2 separate regions of the Homo sapiens genome follow, and region 1 is linked to region 2. The links come from fine-mapping of genetic effects on gene expression. Tissue or cell type: whole blood. Region 2 holds a variant in brackets; the other region holds the start of a gene. All regions are shown on one strand. Distances are between the middles of the regions. Region 1 holds the start of DGAT1 (diacylglycerol O-acyltransferase 1). Region 2 overlaps HSF1 (heat shock transcription factor 1).

The links. PIP is the estimated chance that this variant, and not a neighbour inherited with it, causes the effect.
Region 1: DGAT1 starts here. The variant in region 2 is fine-mapped to the expression of DGAT1 in whole blood (TOPMed, PIP above 0.99).

What each region holds. Positions count from the first base shown.
Region 1 is chr8:144,321,962-144,331,298 of GRCh38, forward strand. It overlaps DGAT1 (diacylglycerol O-acyltransferase 1), which reads right to left and starts at 4,891. Exons shown (of 17, transcript NM_012079.6): 1 at 4,476-4,891. The coding sequence starts at 4,675. It overlaps SCRT1 (scratch family transcriptional repressor 1), which reads right to left. Exons shown (of 2, transcript NM_031309.6): 2 at 8,604-9,337. RefSeq lists an enhancer at 1,967-2,026 and silencers at 4,518-4,587, 4,598-5,317.
Region 2 is chr8:144,301,412-144,310,748 of GRCh38, forward strand. It overlaps HSF1 (heat shock transcription factor 1), which reads left to right. Exons shown (of 13, transcript NM_005526.4): 2 at 7,495-7,603; 3 at 8,044-8,180; 4 at 8,361-8,485. Among named protein-coding and RNA genes, the nearest start is that of MIR6848, 11 kb to the right of the region's middle. The variant A/G (reference allele first, on the strand shown) is at 4,479.

The DNA of each region.
Region 1 (9,337 bases), 21 kb after region 2:
CACTTTCCCAGAGGCAGGGATCCAGCCCTCGTGTGCCGGTGTAGCCTCCACTTGTTTGTGATGTGTGCCCAGGCTGAGGGGGCTGAAAGGAACCCACCCGGGGCTAGGTGCCTGCTGGCTGAGAGGCTTCCAACAGAGGCAGGCACCCACCCATGATCTCCCAACCAGCGCTGGAGGGGCACAGGCAGACCCTGCCTGGTCCTCAGCATACTGCACAGGTGGAAGAGGGCACCCAGCCCAATAGAGGGACTGCCATATAGCTAGGACAAGGACAGCAAGAGCTTGGCCAGGCCCCCACACGTCCTAGGAAGCAGTGCTGGCTCATATACACTAGCTGCAGGCCCGCCTCACCCCCCATCTGCCGTGCCACTGGGACACCACACACAGCATTGAGCAAGTCCTCAACTTTGTAAGAGGAGAGGCCAGAGCCTCCCTTTCCCTCCCGCACACGCACATCTGCCCCTCAGAGCCCCTAGGCAGGGAGAGTGGGCCTGAGAGCCATGGCAGGAGCCCCATGAGGCAGACGCCCTCAGGGCACCCAAGGCAAGCTGGCTAGGATTGGGGTCGGCAGTCAGACGGCCCTGCCCAGGAGGCAAAGGGCCAGGGAGGCCGAGAGGCAATGCCAACAAGCCCAACCTTTGCTCCCCAAGACCAAGGTTGGTGCAACACATGCCCCATCTACACCTACACAGTTCCTGGACAAGTCTACACTAGTCCCCAAGACCCCCAGGCAGGGAGGATGCTCACACCTTTCCCTCTGCCCATCTAGACTGGAACACAGGGGCAGGCAGCTCCACCCAGCCCCTGCCTCTCCCAGCTCCAGCCTGAGCGCCCTGCATCCACCCACCAGGTCCATCCTGGGCCATGCAGTGAGGCTGTGGTCTCCACCAGAGCCTCCCTCCTCCCCAAGTTGGCAGCTGTCTTCCCAACTGACCACCGCCCTTGGCTCATCTCCCCAGCCTACTCCACTCACTGCCTGCCCACAACCAGGAGGCTGGGTGTAGACACCGCCAGAGCCCCAGCACCGTGACGGGAGCAGGGGCACGAGGCCCAACTGCCCAGCAGCCTCTCTGGGCTGTCTGTCTGGGGGCCTCTCCACTGCCCCCTCTTCCCCAAGTTCGAGCCCATTTGTTTTCAGCAGAACAATCCCAAGCCTCAGGGTTGGCCTTCTTGTACCACGACCTACCAACCACAGCTGTTTCACAGCAGTATGACCCCTGCCCCCTTTGAGCCACCAAGGACACCATGCTGGCTTTATCCATGCCCATCTCCAAGATGAAAACAGGAGTCGGGAAAGGGTGGTGCTTCCCAAAGCTCACTGCAGACAATCCTACACAAGCTTTCTCAGGGGCCCCTTGACAGGCTTCCAAGGCCTTCCTCAACCCAGCCACAGCCTCACCTCAGGCCCTTCACAGGCCTGACCAGCCCCACCCAGAGGCAGCACCCCCACTGCGCTACCCCTACCCCTCACAGGCCCCCATGAGGAGGAAGCCCCAGTCCACCAGTGCCCACAGAGCTCCAAGCAGTCAGTGCGGCCAGCAGCATGTGGGCTACAGGGCAGGCTGCATGGAACGGCATGGGGAGGTGGGATCTGCCCCTGTGCCTAGAGCACCTTTATCACCCTCTCACTGACTGGAGGATCTGCCCAAGCCTCTGCACCTTCCAGCTGTCCCTACACCCACTCCCTAGTCCAAGAAGACTCGGAGCAGCCTGCCCTCCCTCCTGCAGCCCCCAGGCCCACCCAGCCAGCAGGATCCTCTCAGTCTCACGGCAACACTGAGACCTTGGCACATGCCCACCCGCCACCCTGTCTCCAGGTTCAAAGTGTGCCCAAAGGCACAGGTCCCAGTGAGTCCCACACTTGGGGCCCACACAGTGCAGCTCCAGGGCCAAGCACAATGAGGAGGGGGCAGAGTCCAGCTCTGCTCACTGCCGCCTCCTCCACTCTGGCCTCTGGGCTGGGCCTGGGTTCAAGATGGTTGGGGCAGGCTCCCTGCACCTCGCAGACCCTGCTGGAGAGAGAAAGGGAGAGTCAGAAAGGACACCTCAGGGACAAAACACCCTGGGAGAAGCCAGAAACCGGATGGCCCCGACTGGGGTGCCTGTGAGCAGAGGGCTGGTGGGTGTGTGCAAAGAGCCTGGCAGGAGTGAGCCACAAGCAGAGCAGAAAGGGGTGCCCTCTCCTGCCTGCCTCACAGCCTCACCTTGCCACGGGGCCGGAAGAAAGGAGCTCACACCCAGAGCCCAGCCCTAGGTGAGCAGGAAGTGTCCGTGAGGGGAGGAGGCCCGAGCTCAAGGAGTAATGAGGAAGCGGGAGAGGAAAGGCTGGGCTGGGCCAAGAGCAGCAGGAAGCTGGAGGGAGGGGAGGCTGTGAGGCTGACAAGGGGGTGCGCTAGAGGCCAAGTCCCAGGAGGGCAGGCAGAGCAAGGCCTGACGCAGACAGCAGGGAGAAGAGCCCAGTGTCCACAGCCAGTGGCCGAGCCCTGCTGCATCCCTAGGTCTGAGGGACAAGCACACATAGCCTGCAAGTCCTGGAGACCCAGGAGCAGATAGACTTTTGGTCTCAGCCTCCAGCCCCATGAAGGCCTCACCTCTCCATCTACTGCCCCTCTTCCCAAGGAGACCCGACCTCCACGGCAGGGACAGGGACTCACCAGGCCTCTCCCACGAGCTCTGCACCCATCCCACACCAGCAGAAGTACAGGAAAGCCTTGCTGGTTTGCAAAGCAAGAAGGTGACTGCTCTCCCCTGCCTACCCCCAGGTGGCGGCTTGGCCCAAAGCTGGGACTACCCTCATCTCACACTAAAAAAAATCTCAATTCCCGGCCGGGCGCGGTGGCTCACACCTGTAATCCCAGCACTTTGGGAGGCCAAGGCAGGTGGATCACCTGAGTTCAGGAGTTCGAGACCAGCCTGACCAACATGGAGAAACCCCATCTCTACTAAAAATACAAAATTAGCCGGGTGTGGTGGGCGCCTCTAATCCCAGCTACTCTGGAGGCTGAGGCAGGAGAATCACTTGAACCTGGGAGGCAGAGGTTGCAGTGAGCCAAGAATGTGCCATTTTACTCCAGCCTGGGCAACAAGAGCAAAACTAGTCTCAAAAAAAAAGAAAAGAAAAAAAAAGAAATCTCAATTCCCACGTCCTCCACAGGTCATGTAGCCATCCCCCTGCCTCCTGGAGAGAGGGTAACTCCAGGAGCCACACCTCCTTTTCAGGTAGGAGGTGCCTAGGCCAGCCTCCCTCACCAGCACCCCAGGCCCACAGCAGGCAAGCACCCCTCTCAGGAGGGCCACCCTCCTCCCCACGGCCCCTTCAAGGCCTCCGTGCCCGACCTTTGTCCATGTTGCTCCATGCCTGACTCTCGCTGAGGTTATCTTATCTCCCAGATGAACTGAGCACCCTGAGGGCCACGACAGTGCCTGCCCTCCCCCAACCCCCTCCCCATGGTGCCCCGTGAAGGAAAGCTCTGTTCTTGCTCACTGAGAGAGCAAATCATTGCCAACTACATGTCCAAAATCAGCCCACTTCTGCCTTGATAACCTCTAGGCCCTCAGCTGCTCTCTAAAACAAAGCCCTGAGGGCCCCTGGGCCAGGGTAAAGGCCATAAAGGGGGGATGGAGGGTGGCAAGGGGATTGCTCAAGGCCAGCTTGGTGGAGGAAGCCAATGCCCAGGCTGGCCAAGTCCTTCCCATCGGCCATGGTTCTCTCCCTCCACCCCTCTCTGTCAGTCATCCAGCTGAGCAGGGCACACGCCTGCAGGTGTGTCCACCACCCCCATACCCCACTCCCCACCTGGAGGATGGAAGTCCCAACACAGAACCCAACTCTCTGTCCCTACAACAGACGCTGGCTCTGGCAACATCGGCAGGGCTCCAGGCCAGCCTAACCACTGGAGCAATGAATGGGCCACGCAGCCACTCTCAGAAGGGTCTGCAAGGACAAGAACGCCTCTAACACTGCCCCTTGTCCGGGGCAGCTGCTGATTCCCCTGTCCTCGGACAGGCCTGGGCTCCTCTGGCCCCCTCCCTGGCAGGCCAGCCCTCCTCTGGGAGCCTTTCCTACCCGCAAGGCACCGCTCATAGCACCAAGAAGGAACCTATCACCACAAACTGCCCAGATCTTATCTGACTCCTTCCATATAAGGGGACACTGTCCAGGGCCGGGCCCCCACCAGCCCGCCCCTCGAAAAGCTCCTCAGGAGCCCCTGAGGATGCACAGACCCAAGAGGATCTGGATGCGGGACACCTGCCGGCTCCCCTCTGCCTGGCCAAGGCCAGCTCCAGAGCCCCTACCCAGTGACCTTGTCAGGTGACTCTCCCCAAGCCTCAGTTTCCCCACAGGGCCCATAGGGCACACCGATCCCCGCTTAGCCCAGGGCCCATGTTCTCGGACTCGGAGCTCGCGCTTCGGCCAACCCCGGAAAGTCGCGGGGCCCTTGGGTCAGAGGTTAGGGGGTCAGGCGCTCCGCTACCTCAGCTCCCAGTGGCCGCTGCCCACGCCGGCGTCTCCGTCCTTGTTGGGGGCCGGGGCTGGCGCGTCCCCCGCGGCTCCCACGTCGGGGCCCGCAGCGGCGTCCCGCACCTCCTCTTCCGCCGCCGCAGGCCCGCCGCCGCCGTGGCTCGAGGGCCGCGACCCTGTCCTCCGGCGCCGGGAGCTGCCGCGGTCGCCCATGGCCTCAGCCCGCACCCGGCCGCAGCCAAGCGTGGGCCCGCCGGGTTCGTAGCGCCCGAGGCGCGCGGCCCCACCTCCGGGCCCTAGACAACGGCCGCCACTGCCCCCTGCCGGCCGCCGTAGCCCGGGTGACCGCCTCACCAGCGCGTTCAACCCGCCCGCGTCGGGCCCGTCGGCCTCAAGGACAACGGCTGCGTTGCTCCGGAGCCGCTAACTAATGGACGGCCGCCTCTCTCGTCCATTTGTAGTCCGCGGCCGACCTGAGGCGGGGCCTGGAGAGGCTGACGGGGCGCAGGGCACCCTGGGAGTCGTAGTCGCCGCGGGCGCGCCGGCGCAGAGCACCCTGGGAGTCGTAGTCGCCGCGGCCGCACCGGCGCAGAGCACCCTGGGAGCCGTGGCAGCTCCCAGGGCCGGGGCTGCGGGCCGCAAGTGCGCGCAGCGGGAACGGACCTTGCATCGCTCCCGCGTGGTCCCGGGGTCCTGTCCGGCCCCACGGAGCGGGATGGTCCGCTGAGGGGTGCGCTGGGCCCCGACTTCCTGGCCGCTGTGCGCCCGCCCCTCGTCCCACTTGTGTACACACGGGGTCTCGGCGAGTCACTCCGGGCAATCATTTAGGAAGCGCCTAGTGCGCCACGGTCCAGCTGTCCGGGCCGGTGTCCGCGGCGGCTCGCGTCGCCCGCCACCCAGCGCGTTGGTTTCTGCGCACGCAGCTTACAGTAACGTCCCTGGCGCGCTTCTGCTCCGCGAGCCCTCTGGTTACCCCGGCAGGAACCTGCTTTTCTTCGCCTTAGGGGGACGTCAGACAAGGGCCAGGTCAGAAGACCAAGCTGGAGAAATGCACCAGGCCCTGCGTCACCGGGACGCCTGCCTTGCACGCGACTCCCAGGCTCTCCACCTCCCCGCCTGCAGAGCCCGGCGAGAGGAGGGCGAGGGCGAGGGCGAGGGCGCAGGCCCCTTGGTGGTGTCTTCTCAGCCCACCCACTCTCTCCACAAGGAGCTCCACGTCCCTCAACTCTCAGGGCCTCCCAGTTTCCAACGTGGGCCAGCCTCTCCAGGATGTCAGAAGTCTGGGCCGCTGGATCGCCGGGACTCAAGAGGCTTCTGTGCATTTGCACGGCCTGTGCAACCGCCCTGTTGTTTTTTGTTTTCTTTTTTCTTTTTTTGAGACAGTCTCACTCTGTCGCCAGGCTGGAGTGCAGTAGCGCGATCTCGTCTCACTGCAACCTCCACCTCCTGGGTTCAAGCGATTCTCCTGCCTCAGCCTCCCGAGTAGCCAGGACTACAGGCGCGTGCCACCACGCCCAGCTAATTTTTCTGTTTTTAGTAGAGACGGGCTTTCACCATATTGGCCAGGCTGGTCTCGATCTCCTGACCTCGTGATCCGCCCACCTCGGCCTCCCAAAGTGCTGGGATTATAGGCGCAAGCCACCGCGCCTGGCCTGTTGTTATTTTTTCTAAAGATGGGGGTCTCGCTATTCTGCCCAGGCTGGTCTCGAACTCCTGGCCTCACGCAATCCTCCCACCTCGGCCTCTGAAGGTGCTGGGATTACAGGTATGAGCCACTGCCCCAGACATCTTGTATGTTAAATGAAGCAACTAATCAACTGTAACAGCCACAGTTGCGGCCCACCTTGGCTTGGTGTGCATATTGCACAGGGCATGGAGTGAGAACATCCTGGATCTCAGGATGCCAGGGTTCACTGAGGACTCTGACTCTAGAAACACCTTCATTCCTCTGGGGTGAGCAGGGGCAAGCAGCACTTCTCTGGAAGCAAACAGGTGCTCCTCCTGAGGTGGGGTCCTCTCCCGTGGGCTGGTCACAGCCTCGCCTCTGAGCTCCGTCCTCTTCCACCACCTCCACCAACAGTGGCCAGCAGGGCTGCCCCCTTGGTTGCCCCCCTGGTGACATATTCTTGTCACCACAGGCCGCTGTGGGTTGCTGCCAACCAGGTATCAGGCAGGCTGGAGCTACCTGGCAGATGCCCTTTGTGTAGCCTGCCGAGTGGGGCCGCCCTCACTGGACCCAAGAGCCCCTCACACATGGGCCTTGGTCGGTCAGGACCAGCCCCATCTCCTACCCAGTCTCTCAGAATATTCATTTGTTGAATGCAGTCGCTGGCAGACACACTCTGTGGCCAGGTAGGCCCAGACCTGTCTGAGTATGGACTGACAGCAAGCTCAGAGAGGTCTGGACCTGGCCACGGAGCACCTCATGCTAGGCAGAGGAGATCAACGACTCAACCTGTGGTCGCGTCCCAACTCAAAGCCGGCAAGTGGCCACAGGAGAAAGACAATGGGAGGGTGGACTGGACCACCAGGGAGGATGGGTCGGGCCTGGTGAGCAGAGCCAGGCTTGGAGCCAATGGGGAAAGCACTGGCTGTGGGCGGGCCATTAAGGAAGGGCTTTGCCACCGGGGGTGGGGGCGTGGCGGGGCAGCAGCTCCAGAGGTGGGTGAAGCCCTGCCCAGACAGGCCCTATACCCTGGGATCTAGGGTGAGGGGAATGGTCAGGGTAGGTGAGGTTGGTTGGGGACAAGGGTGTGTATGGCTGGGTCATCGAGGAAAGCATGATGCAGATCACCCTGCTGGGGGCAGCAACAAATGAGGGGGCCCAAGCCCGAAGCGAGTTGCCTTCCAGGGCTAGTGGAATAAAGGGCTGGAAGTGGGTTGGGGCCTCAGGCTGATCCCAGGGCCTAGGGGCCATGGGTGGGCCAAGAAGGCCTGTGAGAAGCAAGGGTCCCAGGAGAGTTCACAGCCAGTGGTGGTCTATGGCCTGTGCTGCTCATTCAGAGGGAAACTTGTGTCTGTGGCTGGGAGGAACTGGGGGGTCGAGCTCATCCCAGGCCTCAGGGAGGCCACCTCCATCCTTCCACCCACTCTACGCATCAGAATCCTGGAGAAGTAGAAACAGCCAGTCGCTGTTGGAGTCCTTTGGAAGGAGTGAGGCTAGGAGCCTTCCTCCTGGCCATTGCTGTCTGCCATTGTCATTGCTGGTAGTGCTCTCCCAAAGAGAGCACCCACCTGCACCACAGCTCCTCCAAGTGCCAGGCACACAGGCCATGACATGCTGCAGACCTGGTTCCCCTGCTCTCCACCCTAGTGGAGTCTGGGCAGGTCTGTCCCCTGTCCCTGCTAGGGTGTGGGCAGCTTTGCTGGCCCTGGATCTAGGACTGACCTGGTTTGAATGTATGTGCCCGAAGACTTTGGGCCTCTCGGCTCATGCCTGCCTACCTGGTTACCAGGGGACATTGCTGGGCAAAGGGTCCCTGTCCCTTATCTCCTCCACTACTCATTCTGTCTAGAGCCCTTGGGCGATGGTTGCAGAAGCCTCTCTGCCCCCTGGGCACCTCCTCCCTGGAACCGGTCCAACCCAGCTATCCATGGAGGCATCCGCAGACACTGGGGGAGCATATCTGGGAAGCCTGGGGGTCAGAATGTGGGCAGCAGGCCACAGGAAAAGGGCCAGACCTCGAACTCTCCACTGTCCCCATTTCCTGCAACAGCATCTCAGAGGGCTTGAGGTGGCTATCAGGCCTTCCATCACAGCATAAAGCTCCTTCAGGGAGAGAAGAGCGAAGGCACCCAGGCTGGGGAACAGCAGCTCCTACTATACCTACCCTGCCCACTCTGGTCCAACCGTGGGCTTGGCCTGACTTTAGACTGGAACCCCTTAGTGCTCCTGTTCCTGGTGTGGAGCAGATCCACCTACCCCAGGGGAAATGCCAACTACTTTGCCTTCAGACCTGATGCTCCTGTGGTTGGGCCTGCCAAGCCTGCCCTCCCCAGTGGAAGAAGAGGGCCGTCTTGTGAAAGGCCTCAGGCTGACCCTTGCAGCACCAGCCTCTGAGGTACTGCCAGACTGGGAAGACCCTCCCAGCCACCCAACAGCGTGGGCCCAGCCCAGGACACATCAGCCCGACACTCCAAATTCTATCAAGAGTGGCATTTATTCTCCTTGTGGAGGTGCGGTGCTCCGGGGAGCTGGTGCTATTGTGCTTAGGAAGGAGGTCTGTCCGTCCGTCCGTCTGTCCGGCCGGCCTGGCCCCAAATGGGGGCGGAAGAGGGGCACGGCCCGAGTAAAAATCCCGGCCTATTCCGGGTGGGAATATGTACAAGGCGGCGGGGCACAGGCGGGGGTGGGGGCGGGCGGGCCGGCGGCCGCAGCCCCCACCCGAGGGCCCCCGCACCTCGGGCCCTACTTGTAGAATCAGTACAAAATAGGTGCTACCTAAACGTTCCTTCTACCTGAATTCGCTAAGTCGGTTATTGTGCTGCTTAGTTATGGGGGCGGGAGGGGGCCCATGGCTTTCCACGGCGGCGGGGTGTAGGGGGAAGCAGGAGACCCTGACGGGCCCACAGCCCTCCAGCTTTCTCCTTAGGTAGGTAGACAGGAGTATGGGGTGGGGTGAGGTGGGGGCGCCTGTGTGTGCGTGTGCATGCGGCACAGGTGGGCAGGCCCCAGCTTGGGAGCTGTGCAGGCACCACACCTGGTTGTGTAGGGTGTTTGGATGTGGGCACTGCTGTGCAGAGCGGTGGGTCATCCTTGTGGGGGCAGCCACGCTTGCTGCTGGGGGTGAGGCTGGCCACACCATAGGCTACAGCTGGCACCTTCTTCTCCAGCCATGGCTCTGCCCCTGGCTGGACATGGCAGATGTGTGTTGG
Region 2 (9,337 bases):
TCAAAAAAAAAATTATGGCCAAAATTTTTCCCAAATTTTTGAAAAGCTGTAAGCTCACAAATCCAAGAATATCAGTCTTAAGCAGGATAAAACCAAAACCATATCAAGGTACATTATATAATCAAAGTGCTGGAACAGGCTGGTGAAGAGAAAATCTTAAAAGCTCCAGAAGAGGCCGGGCGCGGTGGCTCACGCCTGTAATCCCAGCACTTTGGGAGGCCAAGGCGGGCGGATCACCAGGTCAGGAGGTCGAGACCATCCTGGCTAATACAGTGAAACCCCGTCTCTATTGAAAATACAAAAATTAGCCGGGCGTGGTGGCGGGTGCCTGTAGTCCTAGCTACTCGGGAGGCTGAGGCAGGAGAATGGCGTGAACCCGGGAGGCAGAGCTTGCAGTGAGCCGAGATCGCACCACTGCACTCCAGCCTGGGCGACAAAGCGAGACTCCGTCTCAAAAAAAATAAAAAGCATCCAGAAGAGCCGTGCACGGTGGTGGTGCCTGTGGTGCCAGCTACTCAGAGGCTCGGGTGGAAGGATTGCTCCCAGATGGGGCAACATAGCTTGGCCAACATGGTGAAACCTTGTCTCTACTAAAAATACAAAAACTAGCTGGGCGTGGTGGCAGGTGCCTGTAATCCCCGCTACTCGGGAGGCTGAGGCGGGAGAATCTCTGGAACCCAGGAGGCAGAGGCTGCAGTGAGCCGAAACTGCACCATTGCACTCCAGCCTGGGCGACACAGCGAGACTCCGTCTCCAAAAAAAAAAATTTTTTTTTGCAACTCAGGAAGACAACCATTTAAAAAAAATTAAAGGCAGGCCGGGCGCCGTGGCTCACGCCTGTAATCCCAGCACTTTGGGAGACCGAGGCAGGCGGATCACAAGGTCAGGAATTCAAAAGCAGCCTGGCCAATATGGTGAAACCCCGTCTCTACTGAAAATACAAAAATTAGCTGGGCGTGATGGCAGGTGCCTGTAGTCCCAGCTACTCAGGAGGCTGAGGTGGGAGAATCGCATGAACCCGGGAGGCAGAGGTTGCAGTGAGCTGAGATCGCGCCATTGCACTCTAGCCTGGGCAGTGGAGCGAGACTCCATCTAAAAAAAAAAGATAATAATAATAATAAATAAAACGCAAGTGGCTGAGCATGGTAGCTGACACCTGTAATCCCAACACTTTGGGAGGCCAGCGCGGGTAGATTGCTTCCACTCAGGAGTTCGAGACCAGCCTGGGCAACATAGGGAGACCCATCTCTACAAAAAAAAATGAGCCTGATGTGGTGGTGTGCTCCTGTGGGCCCAGCTACGCGGGAGGCTGAGGTGGGAGGATCTCTTGATCCCAGGAGGTAGAGGTTGCAGTGAGCCCAGATCGCGCCACTGCACTCCAGCCTGGGTGACAAAGCAGACTCTGTCTCGAAAAAACATACATTGAAAAAGGCAGAAGATTTGAACAGATACATCAAAAAAAAGATAGACAAATAGCAAATAAGCACTTGAACAGGTGCTCAGCATCGTTCGTTGTCAGAGGAATGCACACGAAAACCGCAGCGACAGCGACTAGAACAGCCAGGTGCTGAGGAGGGTGCGGAGCCCCTGGAACTCACCCGTGCTGCTGAGAACACAAATGCTGCATCCGCTTTGGAAAGCAGCTTGGGAGTTGCATGTGAAATTCAGCATTTACCACACGGCCAGCAGTTCTGCTTTGGTTATTCTACTCCAGAGTTTCCACTGGGGGTCCTTTATGATTTCGTCTCTTCTATCATTTTTTTGGTATAGATGGGGGTCTCGCTATTTGGATTATTGTTGCAGGCGTGTTTGGGGTTTTTGAGTAGTGGTAGTGTCTGAGGTCAGTCAGGGTTGTTCTGGCCCCAGCAGGGCTCTTCGTAGCTTTTCCTGTGCAGGTGAACAAGCCTGCGGTTTCACTTGTTTCTCTTAACTTAGAGGAGCTGTTGTTCCCAAGAGCAGTCTTGGGCTGAACTTTCAAATAAAATGAGTTTCCTCAGGGAGCTTCAGAGCTCTTTCCTTATGGACGGCCTCTCTCCCCAGGCTGATTTCTCTGCACCACCCTTCTGGGCACTGGGTAAGACAGCAGCCTCTGATCTTCTTGGCCTGGCTTTCCCAGCATGGGTGCTCTACCCTACTGTTTTAACCTAGAAAGCCTGAACTGTATTTAAAACTTGTGGTTTTTAAGGCCAGGCACAGTGGCTCATGCCTGTAATCCCAGCACCTTGGGAAGCCAAGGTGGGTGGATCACTTATGGTCAGGAGTTCAAGACCAGCCTGACCAACCTGGTGAAAGCCTGTCTCTACTAAAAATATAAAAATAAGCCGGGCGTGGTGGCACATGCCTGTAATACCAGCTACCCAGGAAGCTGAGGCAGGAGAATTGCTTGAACCCAGGAGGCGGAGGTTGCAGTGAGCCAAGATGGCACCACTGCACTCCAGCCTGGGCGACAGCGAGACTCCATATAAAAAATAAAAAAAAAAATTGTGGTTTTGAAAATGCTTTAATTAGGTGGGAGCTGTGGGGAGGGTGATCAGAGACCTGGGTGTCCTCAGCCTGCTGTGGCGGGGGTAGTCTCCTCTCTGAGGCTTGGGCAAGGTGGAGGAAGGGAGCCCCTGGCTTCTTGGCCACGTGCACCAGGATCTTAGTCTCTTCAACTTGGAGTCGGTGAGGATGTGAAACTCTGGTGGTCTGCCCAGCCCATGAGATCCAGGAAACCTTATTTGGGAATTGAGGGGAGAAGGGTCCCCATCTTCCTGCTCCCCTCTCCCTGAGTGTAGTACCCATCATGGTGAGCTGGGGTGAGAGGGAAAGAGGAGGCTGAGGCTCAGATGCCACCAGGCTTAATGTTCGTACCAGGTGTCAGTAGATTTTACTCCGTAAGTGTTCATCTGTTATATGCGTTTAGGACAGTTTTGAGACTTTAAGTGGTTTAAGCTTTGCTTGTTTCACAGGAAGTACTTCCATGAAGTTCCTCACATTGCTGTTCCAGAAGTGGAAATCTCTCCATTTTCAAAGCATAGCTTTGCCGGATATTGAATTTTTATGTTTTGTAGAGATGGGGTCTCGCTATGTTGCCCAGGCTGGTCTCCAACTCCTGGGCTCAAGGGATCCTCCTGCCTTGGCCTCCCAAAGTGCTGGGATTACAGGCATGAGTAACTACACCCGGCCAATATACAAAGATTGAGTGGCAGGGTCTTTTATTTTAATGCTTTTATTTTATTTGTTTTGGTTTGTTTTTGTTTCTGTTTTTTTGGAGATGGAGTCTCGCTCTGTCACCCAGGCTAGAGGGCAGTGGCACGATCTGTGCTCACTACAACTTCTACCTCCCGGGTTCAAGCAGTTCTTCTGCCTCAGCCTCCCAAGTAGCTGGGATTACAGGCATGAGCCACGACACTAAAATTTTTCCATTTTTAGTAGAGGCGGGGTTTCACCATGCTGGCCAGGCTGGAACTCCTGACCTCAAACGATCCACACACCTCAGCCTCCCAAAGTGTTGGGATTACAGGCATGAGCCACCACACCAGGCATTTTAATCCTTTTTTTTTTTTTTTATTGAGACAGAGTCTCACTCTGTCCCCCAGGCTGGAGTGCAGTGGGGTGATCTCGGCTCACTGCAACCTCTGCCTCCTGGGTTCAAGCGATTCTCCTGCCTCAGCCTCCCGAGTAGCTGGGACTATAGGCGCCCGCCACTGTGCCGGCTAATTTTTATATTTTTAGTAGAGACGGGGTTTCCCCATGTTGGCCAGGCTGGTCTCGAATTCCTAACCTCAGGTGATCCGCCTGGCTCAGCCTCCCAACATGCTGGGATTACAGGTGTGAGCCACCATGCCCGGCTGTGTTACACTTTTTGTGGTGTCTCACAGGTCTCTGAGGCTCTGCTCATTTTTGTTTTTGTTTTTATTTTTTTGAGACAGAGTCTCTTTCTGTCACTAGACTGGAGTGCAGTGGTGCAATCTCGGCTCACTGCAACCTCTGCCTCCAGAGTTCAAGCGATTCTCTTGCCTCAGCCTCCCAAGTAGCTGGGATTACAGGCACATGCCACCATGCCCAACTAATTTTTTTTGTATTTTTAGTAGAGATGGGGTTTGACCATGTTGGCCAGGATGGTCTAGATCTCTTGACCTCGTGATCCAACCACCTTGGCCTCCCAAAGTGCTGAGATTACAGGCGTGAGCCACTGCGCCTGGCCGGCTCCTCCTTCTTATTCCTTCTGTCTTTTTTTCTCCTACTGGAGCACCTCAATTGACTGATCTTCATGTTTGCTGACTCCTTCTTCTCCTAGTCAGGTCTGCTCTTAAGCCCCTCTGGTTAATTTTTTTTTTTTTTTTTTTTTTTTTTTGAGACGGAGTCTCACTCTGTAGCCCAGGCTGGAGTGCAATGGCGCGATCTCGGCTCACTGCAACCTCTGCCTCCCGGGTTCAAACAATTCTCCTGCCTCAGCCTCCTGAGTAGCCGGGATTACAGGCATGAGCCACCAC[A/G]CCTGGCTAATTTTGTATTTTTAGTAGAGACGGGGTTTCTCCATGTTGGTCAGGTTGGTCTCCAACTCCTGACCTCAGGTGATCCGCCTGCCTTGGCCTCCCAAACTGCTGGGATTACAGGCGTGAGCCACCGCGCCCGGCCCCTCTGGTTGACTTTTAATCTGAGTTATTAAACTCTTCAGCTCCATAATTTTGATTTCGGGCTTCTTTACAATTTTTATCTCTTTATTGATACTCTCTGATAAGATGTCATTCTCATACTTTAGTTCTTCAGATGTGGTTTCCTTTAGTTGTTTGAACATATTTGAAATGATTGACTTAAAATCTTTGCCTCGTAAGTCCAGTGTCCAATGTTTTGGCTTCTTTGGGGACAGTTTCTATTGATTGCCTTTTTTTTTTTTTCCCGTGTATGGGGTATGGGTCCTAGCTTCTTGTTTCTTTGCATATCTCTATTTTTTTTTTTAACTAGAGTTTTTTGTTTGTTTGTTTGTTTGTTTGTTTTTGAGTCTGTTACCCAGGCTGGAGCGCAGTAGTTCAATCACAGCTCACTGCAGCCTTCACCTCCGGAGCTCAAGGGATCCTCCCTCCTCAGCCTCCTGAGTAGCTGGGATGATAGGTGTGCGCCACCACGCCCACTTAATTTTTGTATTTCTTCTAGAGACGGGGTTTTGCCATGTTGCCCAGGCCAGTCTCCAACTCCTGAGCTTGAGCAACCCACCCGCCTCGGCTTCCCAAAGTGCTGGGACCGCAGGCGTGAACCAGCGCAGCCGGCTGGAAAACTGGAACTCTCATCGGTTGAGAGTGGCAGCTCTGGAGCTCGGACTCCCCCACCTCCCCAGGATTTGTCATTGCTGCTGTTTGTCGTGGTTATCTGTCAGGTAGCTTTTCGGCACTAATTCTGTAAAGGTTGCGTTCTTTCTTGTTTATGGCCACTGCCGTCTCTGTTCAGTTAACTGAGATAGGTGGTGATGGGGCAGAAATGTTCTTGAATGCCTGGGGCCAGTGAGTCTCCCGTCTTTTCCGGGGGCTGTGTGTGTGTGTGTGTGTGTTGGGGACGCCTTCAGCACTCGGCCAGGCAGTGGACAACCCAACTGTATGCCTGACTTCCTGCTTACACAGAGCCTCAAGGTCAGCCAGAAGTGAGAGCTCGGGGCTGGCTCAGGTCTTTCCTGAGCACGGGCACGGCTCACACGTGTACACGGCTGCGAGATGTCCTGGAATATCTCAGAGCTTTTCAGAGCCCCTAGTGGCACCTCCTTCTCCCCAGCTGCCAGGCACTGCCTCAGGCAGCCACAGCGTTCAAAAATCACCTGTAAAGGTTTCAACAGGCACACCTCGGCAAACAGCTTTTTTATTCAGGAGAGCTTCAAGTCAAATCAGAGACAGCCTTGGGAGTGGACTCTTAGGTCAGATGCTGACAGTCCTCTGGGAATGGGGCCCTGGAGGAGCTCAAGCCCTGGCCCACCCCGCAGCGGCTGCCAGGACGCTGTTCCCACGGGGACTGCAGCTGTTGGTTTTTAAGGCTGCAGATGGAGTGGGAATAGGGCATGTAAAATGCCACAAAGCCTGGCTGGGCACAGAGGCTCACGCCTGTAATCCCAGCACTGCAGGAGGCCAAGGTGGGCGGATTGATTGAGGTCAGGAATTCGAGACCAGTCTGGGCAACATGGTGAAACCCCATCTCTCCTAAAAATACAGAAATGAGCCGGGCGTGGTGGCGCCTATAGTCAGCTACTCGGGAGGCTGAGGCAGGAGAATCACTTGAACTCGGGAGGCTGAGGCACGAGAATCGCTTGAACTGGGAGGCTGAGGCACGAGAATCGCTTGAACTGGGATGCAGAGGCTGCAGTGAGCCATGTTGGTGCTGGTGCACTCCAGCCTGAGCAAGACCTTGTCTCAGAAAAAAAAAAAGTTCACAAAGCCCACTGTTCTTACTAAGATTCAGCTGTTTTTCTTGAATAAATGCTCCCCGTGCTACTGTAATTCTTTGGTTAACTTTCAGAGTTCTGGAAAGTTGGCTTGGCGCTTTTCGCCGTCTCTCTCCTGCTGCCTTGGGGTCCTTTCCGTGACCGTTTCCCTCCCTGACACGTGTACATCCCTGTGTATTTCACATCTCTCTATGCTGGAAAGAGGTTCTCCACTTCTAGTGCCACACCACGGGGGTCTTTCTGGCTTTTTCCCTGTTTGCATCTGCAGCTCCCTTCCCTGGCAGGGAGAAACCTGCCCCACTGCCCTTCACCAGTTTCTTCACTGAGTCAGCCGCCCCTTCCTATGCAGACACCCCTCACCCCTCTCTGGCCCTGCTTCAGGCCCCCCTTCCCCGCCGTGTGGGCTTCTCGCTGTCCCCTAAGCCTTCGATGTCCCCTCTGAGCCACCGCGGCCACGGCCAACAGGGATGCCTCCCTCACCAGCGCCTCCTGATAGCTCTGGGCCTGAGCTCGGTAGAGAAATGGAAGAGGAAGGTATATGCAGTGTTTGACTGTCTCTGTTTCTTGTCTCACGTCACAAAACAAGACTGAATTTGGATTTCTGAACGCGACTGTGTTTTCCTCGGGAGTAATGAAATTAGGGCTCCATTTCCTTCGCTGTTCCCAAGGGAAAGGTCCTGCTTAAACAGGTGCTTTGTGAGTGGAAACGTGGCCAGAGTGCGGCGGGTGCTTTGTGAGTGGAAATGTGGCCAGAGTGCGGCGGATGCTTTGTGAGTGGAAACGTGGCCTTCTCTGGAAGCCCTGGGGAGGGGCTTTCCGACTGAGAGGAAGGCCTCGCATCTGCCCACCGCCCAGTCCTGGGCCTCACAGTGAGGATGCAGGTCACGCTGCACAGATGAGGCCCGTGTGGCAGGTGGTCCCAGGAACGAACTCGCCTCCCGCCAGCCCCCTGGGCCTCCCATGGCCCCAGCCCCATCAGGTGGAACGTGCACTGCCTGCGTTTCAGAAGGGGCGGCCTGGGGAAGGGGCGGCTTGGGCACGCTGCCCCTCACCACCACGCGTGACCCACCCATGTGTCTCCCTTTCAGAGCGGGAACAGCTTCCACGTGTTCGACCAGGGCCAGTTTGCCAAGGAGGTGCTGCCCAAGTACTTCAAGCACAACAACATGGCCAGCTTCGTGCGGCAGCTCAACATGTGTGAGTGCTGCCTCCAGGCAGCGCAGGGGTGCGGGAGGCAGACCTGCAGATGGCGGGACCCCAGCAGGAGGACCCTGTGATGAAGGACGGGGCGTCCTGTGCTGGCCAAGGGCATGGCGTGGGACCCTGCAAGCCTGGGGGCCGGGGAGCAGCCGCCTCTTCCATGGGGGAGGGTCCTTGTGGGTATGAACCTGGGGTCCCCATGGAAGAACCGTGAAGCCGGAGCTGTACTCCACGTGTGTCGGGCGCAGGGAGCCCTGTGGGGACACAGGGTCTCCCTTAGACCAAGGCCACTCGGCCACCCAGGCATGGGCTCTGAGGGGGCAGGGCAGGGTCTGACCATGGCCAAGCCCCGCAGCAGCCTCCTGGAGCAGTGGCCGCTCTTCAGGGGTTCTGGTCCCGCCCTGAGGCAGAGCTGCCCCCTTCCCTGTTATGTGCAGATGGCTTCCGGAAAGTGGTCCACATCGAGCAGGGCGGCCTGGTCAAGCCAGAGAGAGACGACACGGAGTTCCAGCACCCATGCTTCCTGCGTGGCCAGGAGCAGCTCCTTGAGAACATCAAGAGGAAAGTGACCAGTGTGAGTGCCGGCCCTGCACCCTTGCCCGGTCTCACCTGCCACAGCTCTCCCCGCCCGCCCCTCCCTGAGGGCTCCCACCCCAGCCTGCCCCTTCCTGAGGGACCTGGCTGCAGTGGACGAGCCTGAGCCTGCCAAGCTCCTAGGCTGCTCCAGTGACTCCTGTCCCTCTCGGGAATCCAGGTGTCCACCCTGAAGAGTGAAGACATAAAGATCCGCCAGGACAGCGTCACCAAGCTGCTGACGGACGTGCAGCTGATGAAGGGGAAGCAGGAGTGCATGGACTCCAAGCTCCTGGCCATGAAGCAGTAGGTCCCACACCAGCATTATGGGCCACAGCGGGTCCTGGCGCCCACCAAGAGGCCCCGGGTGCTGTGGGGGCAGGGCCCTGACCGGGGCCAGGTGCTCAGCTCCACCCTCCCGCTCCACGCACATCTACCCTGGGCCTCTGCCCCAGCCCCGCCGCCCGTGGCTGCTGCAACAGCTCTGGGGCCAGCCGTTTTCCATGTGCAGAAGGGGGTTGGGAGGGTCCCCTGCTCTGCACATCCCCAGCGCCCTCTGGGCCATTGGCTTCTGCCTGGCTCCGAGCTTGGCGGGACCCACCAGCCTACTTTTGAGGACAAGCCTTGCACAGCAGACCCGTCCCACCCGCCTCGGGCCTGGGGTCAGACCCACCTCAGGCCCTTCCTGGAACCGCTGTCCCACACTCGCCTGGGCCCATGGAGCTAGCCCCCAGCCCCTCCTCACCGGGACCCTGCGGCTCTGGGGAAACCTTAGCAGGAGCCTAACACACGGTGGCACCTGAGAAACTGAGGCAAGCCCACCTCGGAAGGCCAGCTCAGGTCTCACGTCCACTTTGGGGCTCCAGGCATGCGGGAACCCCAATGCCAGTACGGCTTCCTCGGCTCCGTGCAGCAGGCGCTCTTGACCCCCACGTCATGGAGGAGGCCTTGGCCTCAGACTCTCCTGCATGGGGTCTAGCAGGAGCCACCGGCTTTGTGATTCCTGGAGTCCGGCCACGTGGACCTGGCCTACCAAGAAGACTCACAGGCTTGACAGGGCCCAGCCTCCCAGAGCAGCAGGAGCGCGGTCATGGCCCTGCTCACCTGGCTGGGGACAGCTCTTCCCCACCCCTGAGCCACCTCCAGGCCTGGCGAGGG